Linked DNA regions of Homo sapiens: region 1 is linked to region 2. The links come from fine-mapping of genetic effects on gene expression. Tissue or cell type: esophagus mucosa. Region 2 holds a variant in brackets; the other region holds the start of a gene. All regions are shown on one strand. Distances are from middle to middle.

Region 1 (8,103 bases), 190 kb before region 2:
ACCTCAGCCTCCCGAGTAGCTGGGATTACAGATGCCCACCACCACACCTAGCTAAATTTTGTATTTCTAGTAGAGACGGGTTTTCACCACATTGGCCAGGCTGGTTTCGAACTCCTGGCCTCAGGTGATCCACCTGCCTTGGCCTCCCAAAGTGCTGGAATTACAGGCGTGAGCCACCACGCCTGGCTGTGTAAGTACTTTCTATGATGTTTTTGCAACAACAAAATCACCTAATAATGTATTTCTCAGAACATATCCCTGTCATTAAGTGACACATGAGGTTATTCTGAATTCTGTTCTGTAGACCAGCCCTGTCCAATGGAGCTTTCTATGATGATGAAAATGTTATTTTACATTCTCTACTACGGCAGCCACTAGCCACATGTAGTTATTGGGCACTTGAAATGAAAAACTGAAATTTTTGTTTTATTTAACCTAATTTAAAATAATATTTAAGTAACCACATGTAGCTAATGATTCCCATGTTGGCCAGGTGGCTCTAGTGAATGCTTGCTCTCAGAGTAGAGGTTAAAACCATTCTAATTCAGGGGATTCTAAATGGAGTATCAGATTTCTAAGGGAACATATCTCAGACAAATAGTACTACAATGTTGCTGAAGCAAGTAAGAAGCCCATATATTGTTGACCAAAGCAAGTGACAAGGTCAAAGTCAAGGTCAACAGGAGCAGGGAAGTGTAATCTTCCCATAGGTCAAAGCTAGGTATATAAGACATAGAAATTTCTTTCTTCTTTTCTCCTCTTCTTTCCCCTTCCCACCGTCCTTCCTCACCTCCTCCTCTTCTTTTGCAAATACATTTAAATTTTATATTAAGTCTATTCTTCTAGGTGGCAAAAATTAAGTTTTAGGCAATTCCATCTCCATCTTGGCCAATGCTGCCTCCTCCTCCTGATCATCATCTTTGATCTCAATAGCTTTCACATCCAGCTGTTTCAGGTACATTTGTGTATCCTCACAGCACACATGCAGACACCAAATCATCGCACATGGCTTGGGTGCAGGGAGCTCTGGGGCTGCCACTAGCCTGTGGTATGGGTACCTGAGGCACTTCATATAGATGTCTTACTGGTCCTCTGTCTTAGAAGGCAGAGGATCTCCACAAGCTTGGCCATGCCTAGCCTTCACTCCAGGAGTGGTGTACAGCTTCTCCACTGTGCTCAGATGCCCCAAAACGATATGATATATCTGTCTTCAGTCTGCCTGCCCCCAACCTAATTGTTGACCATGGGTAAAAGCAAGGTGCATGCTACTTTCTCAGAGAAACCCACTGTAGCAGTCAGCTTAGACTCAATTATGTTACAGCAACAAACCTCTGATTTAAAACAGCAAAGATACCTTTTGCTGGGGGGCCACATCACTGTTCCACAGCATCCCCTAACTGGTTCATTGGCAGCGTTAAGAAGAAGAGGGCAGGATCACAAAATGACTCCTGAAACTTCTGCCCTCAGAAGAAGCGTAAAAGTCACCTCTGTGCATATTCATTGTTCAAAGAAAATCACATGACCGATCTTTACCTCAACAGTAAGGTAAAATAGAGTCCTTCCCATAGGGATTGGCAGTGAAATTTTTTGGGCATTAATAGTATCTGCACAAGCATCATCTACTTTTCTTCTCTCTTTCTCTCCCGCTTTCCAGTCCCCATCACCATCTTCAACATCTCACAGCCTGTAGGTTCTTTATTTAGACTAAGCAGGATGATATATGCTTTATAATCTACTATTTCTGACATAGACTATTAAAGCTCCAAAGCCTGTATTCTGGAAACTCAAAACTCTTTTCTTGAAGAACTCTATTCTGTCACATGTGTTTCTGAAGCTCTTGTTTCTGCACTATTATCCCTTCCCCGGGGTAGAAAGCAGAAAATGTACTAGCTGCTTCCTGAGTGAAGGAAGCATTCAAAGGAAGACAGAAAATCTGTGGAGAAGCCACCAGTTAATAAAACATTATTGGACCACACTCTGGCAGGGGAGGCTGCCAAAGGGATTTCCCTTTGGAACGGAAAAATCTTGGGATTGAAGGCAGGGGCTGGCATGATATTGGAGTTGGCTACCAGAGTTCTTGAGGATTAGTGCTAACAAGTAGAACTTTCTGAGAGGATAGTAATGTTCTTTATCTGTGCTGTCCAGTACAGTAGCCTTTAGCCACATGTGGCTCTTAAGTACTTCGAATGTGACTTGGGTGACCGAGGAACTAAATTCTGTTTTTATTTTATTTTATTTTTTATTAAACTTTAAGTTCTGGGATATGTGTGCAGAACGTGCAGGTTTGTTACATAGGTATACACGTGCCATGGTGGTTTGCTGCACCCATTAACCCATCATCTATATTAGGTATTTCTCCTAATGCTATCCCTCCCCTTGCCCCTACCCGCGACAGGCCCCGGTGTGTGATGTTCCCCTCCCTGTGTCCATGTTTTCTCTTTGTTCAACCCCCACTTATGAGTGAGAACATGCGGTGTTTGGTTTTCTGTTCCTGTGTTAGTTTGCTGAGAATGATGGTTTACAGCTTCATCCATGTCCCTGCAAAGGACATGAACTCATCCTTTTTAATGGCTGTATCCATGTCCCTGCAAAGGACATGAACTCACCCTTTTTTATGGCTGCATGGTATTCCATGGTGAAAATGTGCCACATTTTTTTTTATCCAGTCTATCATTGATGGGCATTAGGATTGTTTCCAAGTCTTTGCTATTGTGAACAGTGCCACAATAAACATACATGTGCATGTGTCTTTATAGCAGAATGATTTATAATCCTTTGGGTATATACCCAGTAATGGGATTGCTGGGTCAAATGGTATTTCTAGTTCTAGATCCTTGAAGAATTGCCACACTGTTTTCCACAATGGTTGAAGTAATTTACAATCCCACCAACAGTGCAAAAGTGAGGAACCAAATTTTGAACTTTAATTAACTTAAATTGCAACAACCACATGTGGCTAGGGGATACTATATTCAACAGTGCAGTTCTGGAAGTTACCAGAGATAGTGTTGCTAAAAGTCATACAGTGACCTTAATGTCTTACCGTTTATACACATAAAAAGCATGTTGTACTTTGCTTTTTAAAAAATCTCAAAATGGAAATAATTTCACTTAATATAGACATCATATTGACATTATAGGTACAGCATAGTTGGTTAAAAGCAAATAATGCCTTCATTTATTCACTGGCTGGAGTTGTCTGACCTAATAAGCAGAGGCTAAATTCACAATTAATTAAAGATTTCATGTTCATTCAGCCAAGACATGCCTCAAACCACTTTTTGTTCAGCTAGCCAGCAAGATACTTAGAGCCATATTTAGGACATCTTGCAACTATAATCAACATATGCAAAATATCCTATTTCAAAGAAGATCCTTCCTTTATAAGATTAGTAATTCTGTTGTATGAACAGGATTTTTCTCTATTATGCTAAATATAATCATTTTGTAGTAAATGAATACGGCAATGTACTATATGAAAATTTATATGTAATTTGATTATTGTAATTTAACAAATAGTTCTCTTACTGAAGATCAGGCAGCATATTTTTCTATTTAGGGATGAGGAAACAGAGGTTTGGAGAGGTTAAGCTGTTTTCCTAAGGTTATATAACAGGTATGTGGAATTCTGATGCAGGAACTCCTATCTGTTTAATCCAAAGTGCCTCACACCCAACAATACTGCTTTTACTTGATATATAATGATAAAACCTTGATATATAATGATAAAACCTAACTGCAATCACCAATCTTTTTCTTTTTTTTCTTTTCTTTTTTTTTTGTTTTTTGAGATGGAGTCTAGCTCTGTCACCCAGGCTGGCGTGCAATGGCGCGATCTCCACTCACTGCAACCTCCACCTCCCAGGTTCAAGCTATTCTCCTGCCTCAGCCTCCCAAGTAGCTGGGATTACAGGTGCCCGCCACCACGCCCAGCTAATTTTTGTATTTTTAGCAGAGACAGGGTTTCACTGTGTTGGCCAGGCTGGTGTCGAACTCCTGACCTCGTGATCCACCCTCCTTGGCCTCCCAAACTGTTGGGATTACAAGCGTGAGCCACCGCGCCCGGCTCACCTATCTTTTTCTAAGGATAGAGACCAAAGAAGCCACAACCCCTTCCAAGGAGTCAACTGACGCCAATGGGATGCTGTGGTGCAGGACACTTGGGGGGTGCTGCAGCTGATGCCCCTTGGTCTCCTGGTGGTGGAAGGGAAATGGGACTAGATACGAGATTGGCATCTAAGCCATACAAAAAAGCTGTCTCAGACAGGTTGGGCCAGTAAGCACAACGTCACTTATCTATATTGGCTTCTGGTTACCTAATGGGTTTGGTTTGGTAAAAATTAAGAATCAGACTTCTGGGATGCAAGCTATGCCTGTTCAAAATCTGCTGTCAGCCCCTGTGTTTCAAGCTTAACCTTGAACCTCATCATTAATCAGGTGACCTTAGACCGTTTTATCAGCCACGTATCTGCTAGCATAAATCTCCCTTCTGTGAATTCAGAACACTGATACCTCACATTCACTAAAAATACAATGAGAGACAGATGCTCACTTTCTTTATTTGCTGTTGTATTCTTGGTCCCACTTTGCCATTTTTAAAACAGGAAAACGTTTCCCTTACTCGAACGCTAAAGTGCAAAGCTGCTGGTGACGCTGCCTTCTCCCACCTCCGCACTCCACTGTCCTTGCAAACTTTGGACAGAGGAAAGGTGGGCACGGGGCGCGAAACTACAAGTCCCGGCATGCACGGCGTTCTCCGCACAGGCGCACGGGGACCGCCGGGCCAGCCGGCCAGCCAGCCTGCGGAGACTCCCGGGTCCCCGCGCCGGACTGGGACTGGGAGCAGGCAGCCCGGGCGGAGCGGGCCGGTGCCGAGGACGGCCCCAGGCATTGCTCTGCCCCGGGCATTGCGCGGCGCGCGTGAGGGGGATGCGGCAGGAGGCGGCGCGGCGGGAGGAGTAGGCGGCGGCGCCCTCGGGAGGGAGCTGCGCGCGGGCCAGACGGCGCCCGGAGGCTCCGCAGTGCCGCCGCCGTCGCCCGGGAGGCTCCGCGCGGGAGCCATGTAACCCTGCGGCGGGCTCCGGGCTGCTCCGTCCTTCCCCAGCTCCCGGGCTAGCGCGGCAGCGGGGCCACGATGAAGAAGCAGTTCAATCGCATGCGCCAGCTGGCCAACCAGACGGTGGGCAGGTAGGTCACCCGCGGGCACCGCTGTCGGTGCGCGCCCGCGAGGCTGCATCCGCAGGGGCGCGCAGGTGATGGAGCCCGCCCAGCCTCCAGTCCTCCTTGCCTCAGTCCTTTCCCCTGCACCAGCTCCCTCCAGGCGCCGCTCGCAGGCGCGACCCCTCCTCCCTAACTTCCCAGACCCCGGAGCTCTTCTCACTCGCCGCCTTCTGCTCCGGGCTCCGGTTGCCAAGCGCAAAGTGTGACGCATCCTTTACCTGCGTCCCCGGCTGCCCCTTCGCTTCGTCCTCCCTGCCTTTCCCCGGGACTCCCTTCTCCCTCTGGCCGCCTGTCTTCCTGGAAACAGGTGTTTGCTCTGATTGTGCTGGAGGCAGCCGAACCGCAGTCGGTCTCCGGAGATCTCTTCCCTCCCCTCCCCTGCGCCGAGTTCAGGGCTGCTCCCGGGTCCAGGGAAAGTGCTGGGCCTGGTCGGCCTGCCCCTCCCGCCGTGTTTGTTTTCAGGGACTATGACTGTACGAGATTCTGGATCACTTTCCTGGCCGGGTTTCTTAAGGCGTTTGGTGGGGGGAAAGGGTGAGGGGTGGGAGAGGAAGGAAGGTGCTGGTGGAATGGCGTTGCTGCCTGCTTGATGTTAGGACTGATTTCAGTGGAGGGAGGGAGGCTGCAAAAAGGAGGCCCAAGTCCTCGGGAAGATGAGATAAGCAGAGAATCGCAGCCAGGTAGGGGAGGGGGACAGAGGCCCCACAGTCAGAAGAGTCAGGCCCCGGGAAGCTGCAAGACCCCGCCTGCTGCCATCACGGTGAAAATGGGCTACATCTGGACTCCAGGAGCGGCTCTGCAGGGTGCCAACATCTATTAAGGTTACATAAAAATCCTGGTGGGTCGCTCCCAAGACTAGACATTCTTTGAACACAGGAGCGTTAGGTAGAAGGGATTTTTCCTGGAACCCCTACTCCTGGGGAGGGATTTCCGTTGCTGCTGTGGCAAAGGAATTCAGGTGTGCTGTTCTAAAGCAATCAGAAAGCAAAGAATCCAGCCTTGGGTGCAGTTCAAATGCAAGCTCAACACCTCGAGGGCTCTCCACTAGGTTTACGGAGAAACCGAATACCTTTCTTGGGTGGGAAGTGGAGCCTGAACTGGCATCTGGTAGGATGGGGGTGGGGACATCCCTGGGGAATAGGGGACATCTGAACTCCCGTCTGAGCATACTGCCCTAGTTACAGTGGGCATTTGAGGGCAGGGGATGCGGTGGCTTCTTATGCTTCCAGGGACTCCAGATGGTTTCCAAGTAACAATGTCTAAAATTGACTTGGATTCATTTTTCCTTCCCAAACACATGTGCTTTAACATGAGGGGGAATTTATGAATAGCAGAGTCAGATTAGCCCAGATTTCTGGCATGGTATTGCCACAGATATAGCCTCACGTGGACTGCCTTTTGATGTGTTGGATGCCGAGATAGTGTTTCCTGGTATTCGTTGTTTAGCAGATGACAGTCAAGCCGACCCGTCTTTAATGTCTTGGCTTCTTCGTCACCCTGCAGGCGGGCATTGGCCATCACCTCAGACCAGCCAAGTGACCAGGAGGCCCCTGACACTAGACTTGGGTTGCTGGTTTCTCTTGGTCTTGGGGTTTCAGTGCCGTGCTAGAATCTAAATGTTCAGAACATGTTTATGCCTCCTCCCTGGCCTTCCTGAAACACAATTCTTCTTTTTTTCAGGACCTGTTTTTAAATGGGGGAGATTTTTGCGCCATGGCATCATATCTTATTTTTCAGCCTCATCCATGGGGGGAATGCAAAATGGTGAGGGGAGGTTGGATTTCAGAAAAAGTGGTCTTAGGTATTGAGAGCACGTTCTTGGAAGTCCAAGCAGCTGGTTACCAAGAGGTTCTTTCCTCTTCTTTGTTGGGGCTCTGGTGGATGTTGGCCTATGGATGAATTCTGCCTTTCTCCGTTGGTAGCCATTGTGTTGTGCACTGGGCCAGGTGAGGGCCAGCCTGTATCGCTTTTGATGAAATCCAGAGCAAGCCTTTTAAAGCAAAAACCAGTTCATGTTACCTTGCTGCTGAAAAGCTTCCAGCGACATCTGATTGTGCTTAGCATCTCATATCTTGCCAGGGTTCTACAGGACCATCCTTGGTTGGCCTTTTTTCTTAACTCTTTTTCTCCCCATTCTCATCTCTTCACATTCATGGAGCTCTAGCCGTGTGGCCTTTCTTGCCCCAAACACACTGAGCTCATATCCACCTTGAGGATTTCGTTTTTACTGTTTTCCCATTTTTTTTGTTTTTTGCTTGGCTGAGAATGTGCTCCTTCCAAGTAGCTTTTTCTCATCATTTCAGTCTTGGTTCCAAGGCCTTCAAGAGGCCCTTCCTCCCCTATTTACCTCCAGCTCATCATTTTTTCATTTCTGGACAGCACTCATCACTGATTGAAACGCTTTTATTTTTTATTTTCTTGTCTGTCTGCTTCCAGCAGAATCTATTGATTGCTGTTGTATGCCTGTGTAGATAGTGCAATGCCGTTTAGACTACTGACTCTCAATCGGTGTTGATTGCCGAGATTAAAACGGTTTACCCCAGGGTCCGTGAGGGTCAGCGAGAGGGGCAGTATCTCCTCTATTATTGAGAATGTTTTGGGTCATGATCCTATGAGTATTGGAGTAAAAGAGCCCGCGGTTGCCTGTTAATTTCTTAAATCAGTAGAAGCACATAGGATTGGAATTTGGACTTTAGGTGTGCAGTTATAAAGCACTTGATTTTTATCCTTATATTTTTCTAAAGTTTTCCTCTTTCCGAGGGAGGACTAAGAGGACTTGAAAGTCCTTCCTCATGGCTCGCCTTCCCTAAGTTGCAGGTTCTGGAGTTCTGAATATAAAACTTAAAGTCATTTTAACAATGTAGGAGTTGCCCTACTTAAACA
Region 2 (8,104 bases):
AGCAAGACTCCATCTCAAAAAAAAAAAAAAAAAAAAGTGTGTTTCGTGGCAGGGAACAGAAGGAAGAGCTCATTCCTAGATTCCTTGGATAGATGTGTGTCCAAAGGAAGGAAGAAGAGTCTACCCACCCACAAGAAGCAATTTTTTAGTTTGCTGATTATGAGATGTTTTTGATTGGTTGACTGGCCTTCCTCTTGATAGTGGCAGAGATAGATGGAAGGGTAGGTAGATATTTGGCATTGATGCCCGGGTACCTGGTAACCTGCAGCCTGAGGTCCTTGTCCAGCCTGAGTGAGGCAAGGGTTTTCTGTTTCTGTTTTTCATGAACAGAATAGAGAAAGGAATTACTGCTCTTTTGGTTCCTCTGAATAAAATGGTTTTTGCCCCTTGGGGAACTAGGTATAGTGTGTAAGACTCATCCCAAGTGGGAGAGAATGTGCCTCCACATTGAATGTGATCTTCCTTTTATTTCTTTGCATGAGGAAAATGACCTGTGCTTTGACGCTATGGGCTTCCCCGGCCCAGCTCCCTGCTCCCAGTCTTTCTCACCTCAGTGGACGAGAGTGCTCTATTCCTATTGGAATTTTCTCCAAATTAACACCTGGAGTTTCTAGATCAGTTTAGGAAAGAAATAGGCTGTGCCTGCCTTTTTTTTTTCTTTTCTTTTTTCTTTTTTCTTTTTTTTTTTGACAGGGTCTCCCTCTGTTGCCCAGGCTGGAGTGCAGTGGCACGATCTCAGCTCACTGCAACCTCCATCTCCCGGGTTCAAGCCATCCTCCTGCCTCAGCCTCCCGAGTGGCTGGGATTACAGGCACATGTCACCACGCCCAGCTAATTTTTGCATTTTTAGTGTAGACAGGGTTTCGCCATGTTGGCCAGGCTGGTCTCAAACTCCTGACCTCAGGTGACCTGCCTGCCTCGGCCTCCCAAAGTGCTGGATTACAGGCATGAGCCACCATGCCCGGCCCAGGTTGTGCCTGCTCTTGTGGGATAGAAACAGCCATTGCAGAGGATTTGGGTTCCCAGACTCTTCATGCCCCACCTGTGGGCATCAGAATCCAGGTAGGTTCTAGCACGGATGACAGATGGCTCCCAACTGTGGGGCATCTCCCCTGATTCACTAAAGGCCACCTGGAGAATTTTCTTGGAAAGGATTGAGAACACTGTGGGGGAAGTGTGGAGATCAATTAGTAATATCTACCATCAGCGTATCAGGATGACAAATCCCTGGTTTGTGGTGTAGAGTGAGGTGTCTTCTAATACGTGCTTCATCCTCAGAAGAAGGCTGAGGAACAGCCTTGCAGTAACGATGAATCCTCTTTAGGAAACCTGGTGACCTAGGGTGCCTCATTGTCAATTCCAGAGGTCAGAGGCCAGAGCCCTCACTGCCATCGACCTTCACCTCTCTTGAAGCCTGGGACTGGGACTCAAACTGGCCCACATTTAAGGGCATGGCCTGGATTTCTGTCCACCCTAGCTTCTGCTGGAATGGGTATTGAGTTTGAGGATGAGTCCTAGAATCCCTCCTGCCTGGGGGGTGGCTGGAGGCTCAGGGCAAACAGCTGGAGAGCTGGGCCACAAGCTTGGCAGCAGGAGTCCGTGTCATCAGCACTCGTTGGGCACAGTGGCCCTGAGAAGTCCTCTTGGCTACAGTAGGAAAAGCACTTTGGTGTTCCAGTTTGAGAATGTTCTAGAATTCCTGGGTTGATGGCAGGATACGGTAGAGGTGCTCAGGCCCCTGCCCTCACATTGCTCACGGTCTCCTTGAAGAGAGGAGGGCAGAGGCATGAAAAGGGCATTGGCAGTGAGTGCCAAGTGCCACAGAGATGGGGGCAGAACCCAGGCCATCAGAGCTCCAGGAAGGGCAGTCACCCCAAGGGGCACCTGCGAAGGTTTTAGGAAGGGGCCAAGACAGACCAGAGCTGGGACAGACTTGCACGGGGCCCAGAAGGACACACAGGGTGGCCATCGGCAAGGCTGGTGCTGCCGCTCACTGAGTTCAGGGCTTTTCTTTTGTCTCATGTGCTTTCGTTTCAGCACAACAAAAAGCAAGGAACTTTCTCCAGGCTCTGCACAGAAAGGAAGTCCAGGCTCCAGCCAGGGCACAGCCTGTGCAGGGACTCAACCAGGGGCTCAACCTGGAGCTCAGCCGGGCGCCAGCCCCAGCCCCAGCCAGCCGCCTGCAGACCAGAGTCCTCACACCCTCCGGAAAGGTATGGCCCTGCTTCCCTTCTCCTTGGTCTCAGGCCGGAGGTGGCTGTGACATTCCCTGAAGGCTCGTTTTCCTCTATGAACTTGGATATTGAGAAACTGTGTGGTTTAGTGACTAATTCCCATCTGGACATTAGAGCTTTGGAAGTTAAAAGGGATCCTTTCTCTATTATTCCTCAGTTTACTTATTTGACAGGTGGGCTCATTAGGGGCGTATAGAGGCCAGTGCTTCCCATACACCAAATGATGCCACCAGGGCAAAATTCATTGTCCACAATGATGTGTGTTTTCCAGAGACCTGCCGGGCCCTACCTCTGTCATTTGAAAAGCTGTATAGGGTCATCTACAGGAGTCTCCTTCCCCGCAGGGCAGCCTGGCACAGCTGCCTACCCCTAGATCACTCGTACAGGGTGACAGGAGGGAGTCAGGATAGCTTCTGTAGTACCTGAGTCTCAGCTCTGAATGGCCCAAGAATGGCCACACTGACCAGTTATTATCTCTTCAGATAATCACTTCCAAAAGCTAAAGGTATGCTCCATGTGACATTTCATAAATGGGGAGCTGTACTGAGCGTACTTATCTGAACCTTTTTGGTTTGTTCTTACCTGTGTCATCTCTTTGCAGAGTCTTTCACTCGTCTAAAATAATACATCATCCTGTGTGTTCTAATTTCAGACCACTCGCACTTCTAGGAGCGGCTTTTAACTCCTGGATTTGTCGAATAGGGCCCGGATTTAGCTCATCCACATGTGCCTTCATGACAGGCCCTTTTCCAGCCCCCTTAGTTCCGATCTGCAGTGGCAGTTTCATTCTCTTTGTCTGCCCTCACCAAGCCCGTGGATCTTATTCGATCCCTACTCATTCCTTTTGCATTCTACACAAATTTATTAAATCCTGCTATGTACAGAGCTCTGTGCTTTCCAGAGAGGAAGGCAATGATAAGGCAAAGGTGTTGGCACTGTGCTGGGAGACACTCAGGGTACTGTAAGGACACCTGGGAGCATGCTTTCTCGACTCAGGAGTTAGGACAGGTGGCCCAGCGGAAACGACATCGTGAAGGTTGAATAGGAGTTGGGCCAAAGTGCCGGCGTGAGATTTCAGCATCTCAGAGCATTTCTCCAGCACCAATGGTTTCTCCTTGGTCTAGATGCCATATTCTTGGTTATGTCTTTTTTTTTTTTTTGAGACGAAGTCTTGCTCTTGTGCCCCAGGCTGGAGTGCAATGGCACAATCTCGGCTCACTGCAACCTCCGCCTCCTGGGTTCAAGCGATTCTCCTGCCTCAGCCTCCCAAGTAGCTGAAATTAAAGGCGTCTACCACCACACCTGGCTAATTTTTGTATTTTCAGTAGAGATGGGGTTTCACCATGTTGGCCAGACTGGTCTCGAACTCCTGACCTCAGGTGATCTGCCCACCTCGGCCTCCCAAAGTGCTGGGATTACAGGCGTGAGCCACTGTACCCGGCCAGGCACCTCTTTGTTTTAGAGTCCTTTAACTGGCCGGACGCAGTGGCCCCTGCCTGTAATCCTAGCACTTTGGGAGGCTGAGATGGGCAGATTGCCTGAGCTCAGGAGTTTGAGACCAGACTGGACAACGTGGTGAAACCCGTCTCTACTAAAATATAAAAAAATCAGCTGGGCGTGGTGGTGGGCGTCTGTAATCCCAGCTACTCAGGAGGCTGAGGCACAAGAATTGCTTGAACCTGGGAGGTGGAGGTTGCACTGAGCCAAGATCGTGCCACTGCCTTCCAGCTTGGGCAGCAAAGCAAAACTCTGTCTCCAAAAAAAAAGAGTCCTTTAACTTTCCCCACAGCACTACAATACAGGGGTGATGGCTAAGTCATTGTCTCGTCCAGTGGGAGAGCCAGGGCTCCTGTAGCAGCCACCCAGCCTCCTAATGCCAGTGACAGGTTGACCCTTTTCGTTTTTGCAGCACATTGGACCTAGGCAGCCAGTGTAGCCTAGAGTGACTCAGGTCCCTTTCCCAAGTGACCTTCAATAGCTCAGACCCATCTTTTGAAAGGTATACATTTCTTCTCTACTCCCCATCATGCCCACAGATGGCACACTTAGCAGGTCTTTTTTTTTAATTTTTTTTTTTTTGACACCTCAGTCTTCTGACAGCGTGCCGACAATTTCACATCCTATTCCTGTCACCACCGGAAGTGGTAAATGTCATCACAGACATGGTGATGCATCCTCTGTCCCCCAGCTCCTTCGTGAGAAGGCATGTGCAAGCATTGATACCTAGGGTCTCCACCTGCTTCTCATCCAGGGGTACCCCTGCGTCTGTCACCCATGACCACGTGGCTGCCATGAGCTGCAGTAGCAGCTGCTGGAAGCACTTCCCCTGTACTCAGGAAGTAGAGTTGAAAAGTGAAATTGGAAAGTTAAGTGGTTTTATTATGTCATGATTATGTGGTACTTGACATGTATGATCTCATTTAATTATTACACTGCTGCAGAGAAAATCTTTTTCCTCCAATTGCATAGAAGATGTTTGAATAAGTTGACCCAGGGAATACAG[C/T]GGGTAAGTGGCAGGATAGAAATTTGAGCCCACGTTGGTAGGATTCTGAAGGGCATGTCCTTCTGTCCACACTGCAGACTGACACACCCAGAGAATACATGAGGTGTCCTCCTAACAGACCTTGTTCCTTGGAGGGAGTGGGGGTGGGGTGGGGAGAAGGAAGAGCTTCTGACCTCTCCCTTAGGACTTACAAGATAATTCCTTCTAGAATCAGACCCACACACATGGCTGGGCACCGTGGCTCACGCCTGTAATCCAAGCACTTTGGAAGGCCAAGGCAGGTGGATCATGAAGTCAGGAGATCGAGACCATCCTGGCTAACACAGTGAAACCCCATCTCTACCAAAAATACAAAAAATTAGCTGGGCATGGTGGCAGGCGCCTGTAGTCCCAGCTACTTGGGAGGCTGAGGCAGGAGAATGGCATGAACCCGGGAGGCGGAGTTTGCAGAGAGCCGAGATCGCGCCACTGCACTCCAGCCTGGGTGACAGAGCGAGACTCCATCTTAAAAAAAAAAAAAAAAAAAAAAGGAATCAGACCCACACACAGCCAGTCCTCACTTAAGCCTAACAGGTTAGTGATCACTCTCTCAAGATATTTGCCCATCAAGTATCTCCTGGACGTTTGAATTTATTGTCTTTACCAATTCATTTTCAATTAAAGGTATAATGGATTTGTCATCCTATAGGGAGATTGGGAAAAGGATAATGAAGGTAAGGCAAAGGAGGTCAGGGCAATAATGTACTTTGAAAAATGCGGTTGATTGGCCGGGCGTGGTGGCTTACGCCTGTAATCCCAGCACTTTGGGAGGCCGAGGCGGGCGGATCACCTGAGGTTGGGAGTTCAAGACCAGCCTGACCAACATGGAGAAACCCTGTGTCTACTAAAAACACAAAATTAGCCAGGCGTGGTGGTGGGCGCCTGTAATCCCAGCTACTCAGGAGGCTGAGGCAGGAGAATTGCTTGAACCTGGGAGGCGGAGGTTGTGGTGAGCGGCGATCGCGCCATTGCACTCCAGCCTGGGCGACAAAAGCAAAGCTCCGTCTCCAAAAGAAAAAAAAACAACAAAAAAACCCCAGAAAAACAACGAAAAATGCAGTCGATCCATACATGCTTAGACCAGCGGGTACAATTCTAGGAAGAAACAAGAATGAGAAGAAAGCCTCAGCAGCAGGGATGCAGGATTGAGGCACAGCATATAAAGTAATGAAGGAACAGGGGTTCTGTGGCCGGAGGATTTGCTCACATATCACTGTTAGGGGAGCCAGAAGCCACTGGACAGGTTCAGCCAAAAGTCAGTTTTCTATCCCGAGGACCTGCCCCTGTGTCAGGGCTCCTCTGTCCATTACAGCAAATTGAACTGGAGTCATCCTCTGCTGGACCCTGCCCCACTGACTCACTCTTGCTCAGAGAGTAGCAGCGATGCCTCTCACCACTGGGAAGGCAGCCCACTCCTGTGGATGGGAAATTTGTTCTCTAGTTTGGCTGGGTGTGCGTGTGTAGATCAGGGCAGAAATCCAGAAAAGAGGAGGAAAAATTAGTTAACAGATGGGAAGATAGGAAAACTTGCAGTTCTCGGTTAATTTTTAAAAATTGTATTGGCTGCTGTCAATGTGGCAAGAGGCCGGGGGGCAGGGCAGGGAGGTGTGGGTGGGTGGCGAGGGGCAGGAGGTGGGGACAGCTTTGAACGCTGAAGGGTGTGTGAACAGGCCCCACAAGTGGCTTCATTCAACAACTTTGTGTTTTGTTGTTGTGTTGTGTTTTCTCTTTCAGTTTCAAAGAAGCTGGCACCGATTCCACCCAAGGTCCCCTTTGGCCAGCCGGGGGCTATGGCAGACCAGTCCGCTGGCCAGCCGTCCCCAGTCAGCCTGTCCCCCACCCCGCCCAGCACCCCGTCACCCTATGGACTGAGCTACCCTCAGGGGTACTCCTTGGCCTCGGGCCAGCTCTCCCCAGCTGCAGCTCCTCCCCTGGCCTCTCCTTCTGTCTTTACAAGCACTTTGAGCAAATCGCGGCCCACTCCTAAGCCGCGACAGAGACCTACTCTGCCGCCTCCTCAGCCTCCCACAGTAAACCTCTCGGCCTCTAGTCCACAGTCCACGGAGGCCCCCATGCTAGATGGCATGTCCCCTGGGGAAAGCATGTCTACAGGTAACCAAGCCACAGGCTCCCTCACTTTTTTTTATGAACTTTAGTGAAATGTGCCTAGGGGAGGGATTGCTAGTGTTACTGCCAGTGAACACATTCCTGCGTGCTTTGGGATGACTGGGCTGGCACCAGGGGTAGCTCATAAGATCTCCTTAGAAGCCCACCAATGGAAAGCAACCCTGGAATCCATGTGTCCCACACAGGGGCTTCTTATGGGATCTCTCTCGGTCTAAGCCCACCAGCCTGGGGTTCTGTTTTTGCTCTTATTATCGGGGGTTGAAGACACTGAGTCATTTGGAGTGGGGCCTCAGGAGAGGCTGGAAGCTGGTTATGATCACAAAACAGCATCAAAACTCAGGTATTTCCTGGATAGAGCCCAAGCAACTGACAGGTATAAATGCTTATCTGGAGAACAGGGGCTAAGAACCCAAGATGTTTTTTACTATTACTAAAATAAGCCTTGCTAGAAAAATATACTTCCAGATAGATATTTAGAGAGGGGTGAATTTCAGAAAACATGCATGTCTCCATTCTCCTCCACCAGACTCCCCTCCCTGGCCAATTCCCTGAGGAGCTAATTGGACAAACCCACAACGACTTAATTTAGTTTGGGCTTAAATTTAGAAACAAAGACGGAGCTCTCTTCCCCCAGAAAAATCTGTAAGCACAAAATCGCAAACACACACCACGTTTAGCCAAAACCATTCATTGGCTGGAAGGAACGGGATGTTTTTGGAACATCTCCCCAGACACTTCAACCACATAAGATTATAAAGTCAGGGGCCTATTTGTGGTGGCTGCTAAAGTCATTTGAGCATTTTCCTTGTTCAGGGAGACAGGCACAGGGTTGAGCTGTGTCTTGGGCTAGAGCCAACCCACTTAGTAAAGTGCAGTAGCATGGCGGTGAGCTGGAGCATATGTGTACCTAGTGTTGTCCCAAGTAGCAGAAGGTGAGGCAGCTTGGGTTGGAACACACACACCACATACACACACACCCACTCACCCATTTCAAAGAACAGTGCTGTCCTAGGATGCACTGGGACTTTTTGTGATAATGCACTTTTCCCTCCACGTCCTTCTCCAAAAGAGTGATTTATTTCTTCCGTGATTAGACGGAAGCAGTGACCCTGTGGGGTTCAGCTCCGTGCTGCCTTTGAAAAGGCTAGTCCAATTTGCAAGTGTTTGTACTGGGTCAGATTTAAATATTACGGGGAAGAGC

Direction of the effects. Positions count from the first base shown, and alleles are read on the strand shown. Sizes are in standard deviations (SD) of each study's normalised expression.
In carriers of allele T in region 2, the expression in esophagus mucosa of the gene that starts at base 4,794 in region 1 tends to be lower than with C alone (small effect, 0.22 SD a copy in GTEx).

Evidence for each region. PIP is the estimated chance that this variant, and not a neighbour inherited with it, causes the effect.
Region 1: it holds the start of ARHGAP44, and the variant in region 2 is fine-mapped to the expression of ARHGAP44 in esophagus mucosa (GTEx, PIP 0.91).

What each region holds. Positions count from the first base shown.
Region 1 is chr17:12,784,705-12,792,807 of GRCh38, forward strand. ARHGAP44 (Rho GTPase activating protein 44) reads left to right here and starts at 4,794. Exons shown (of 21, transcript NM_014859.6): 1 at 4,794-5,187. The coding sequence starts at 5,135. ARHGAP44-AS1 (ARHGAP44 and MYOCD antisense RNA 1) reads right to left here and starts at 5,580. Exons shown (of 2, transcript NR_104607.1): 1 at 5,439-5,580. RefSeq lists a silencer at 4,721-5,070.
Region 2 is chr17:12,978,021-12,986,124 of GRCh38, forward strand. It overlaps ARHGAP44 (Rho GTPase activating protein 44), which reads left to right. Exons shown (of 21, transcript NM_014859.6): 19 at 2,038-2,213; 20 at 6,511-6,888. Among named protein-coding and RNA genes, the nearest start is that of ELAC2, 36 kb to the right of the region's middle. The variant C/T (reference allele first, on the strand shown) is at 4,738.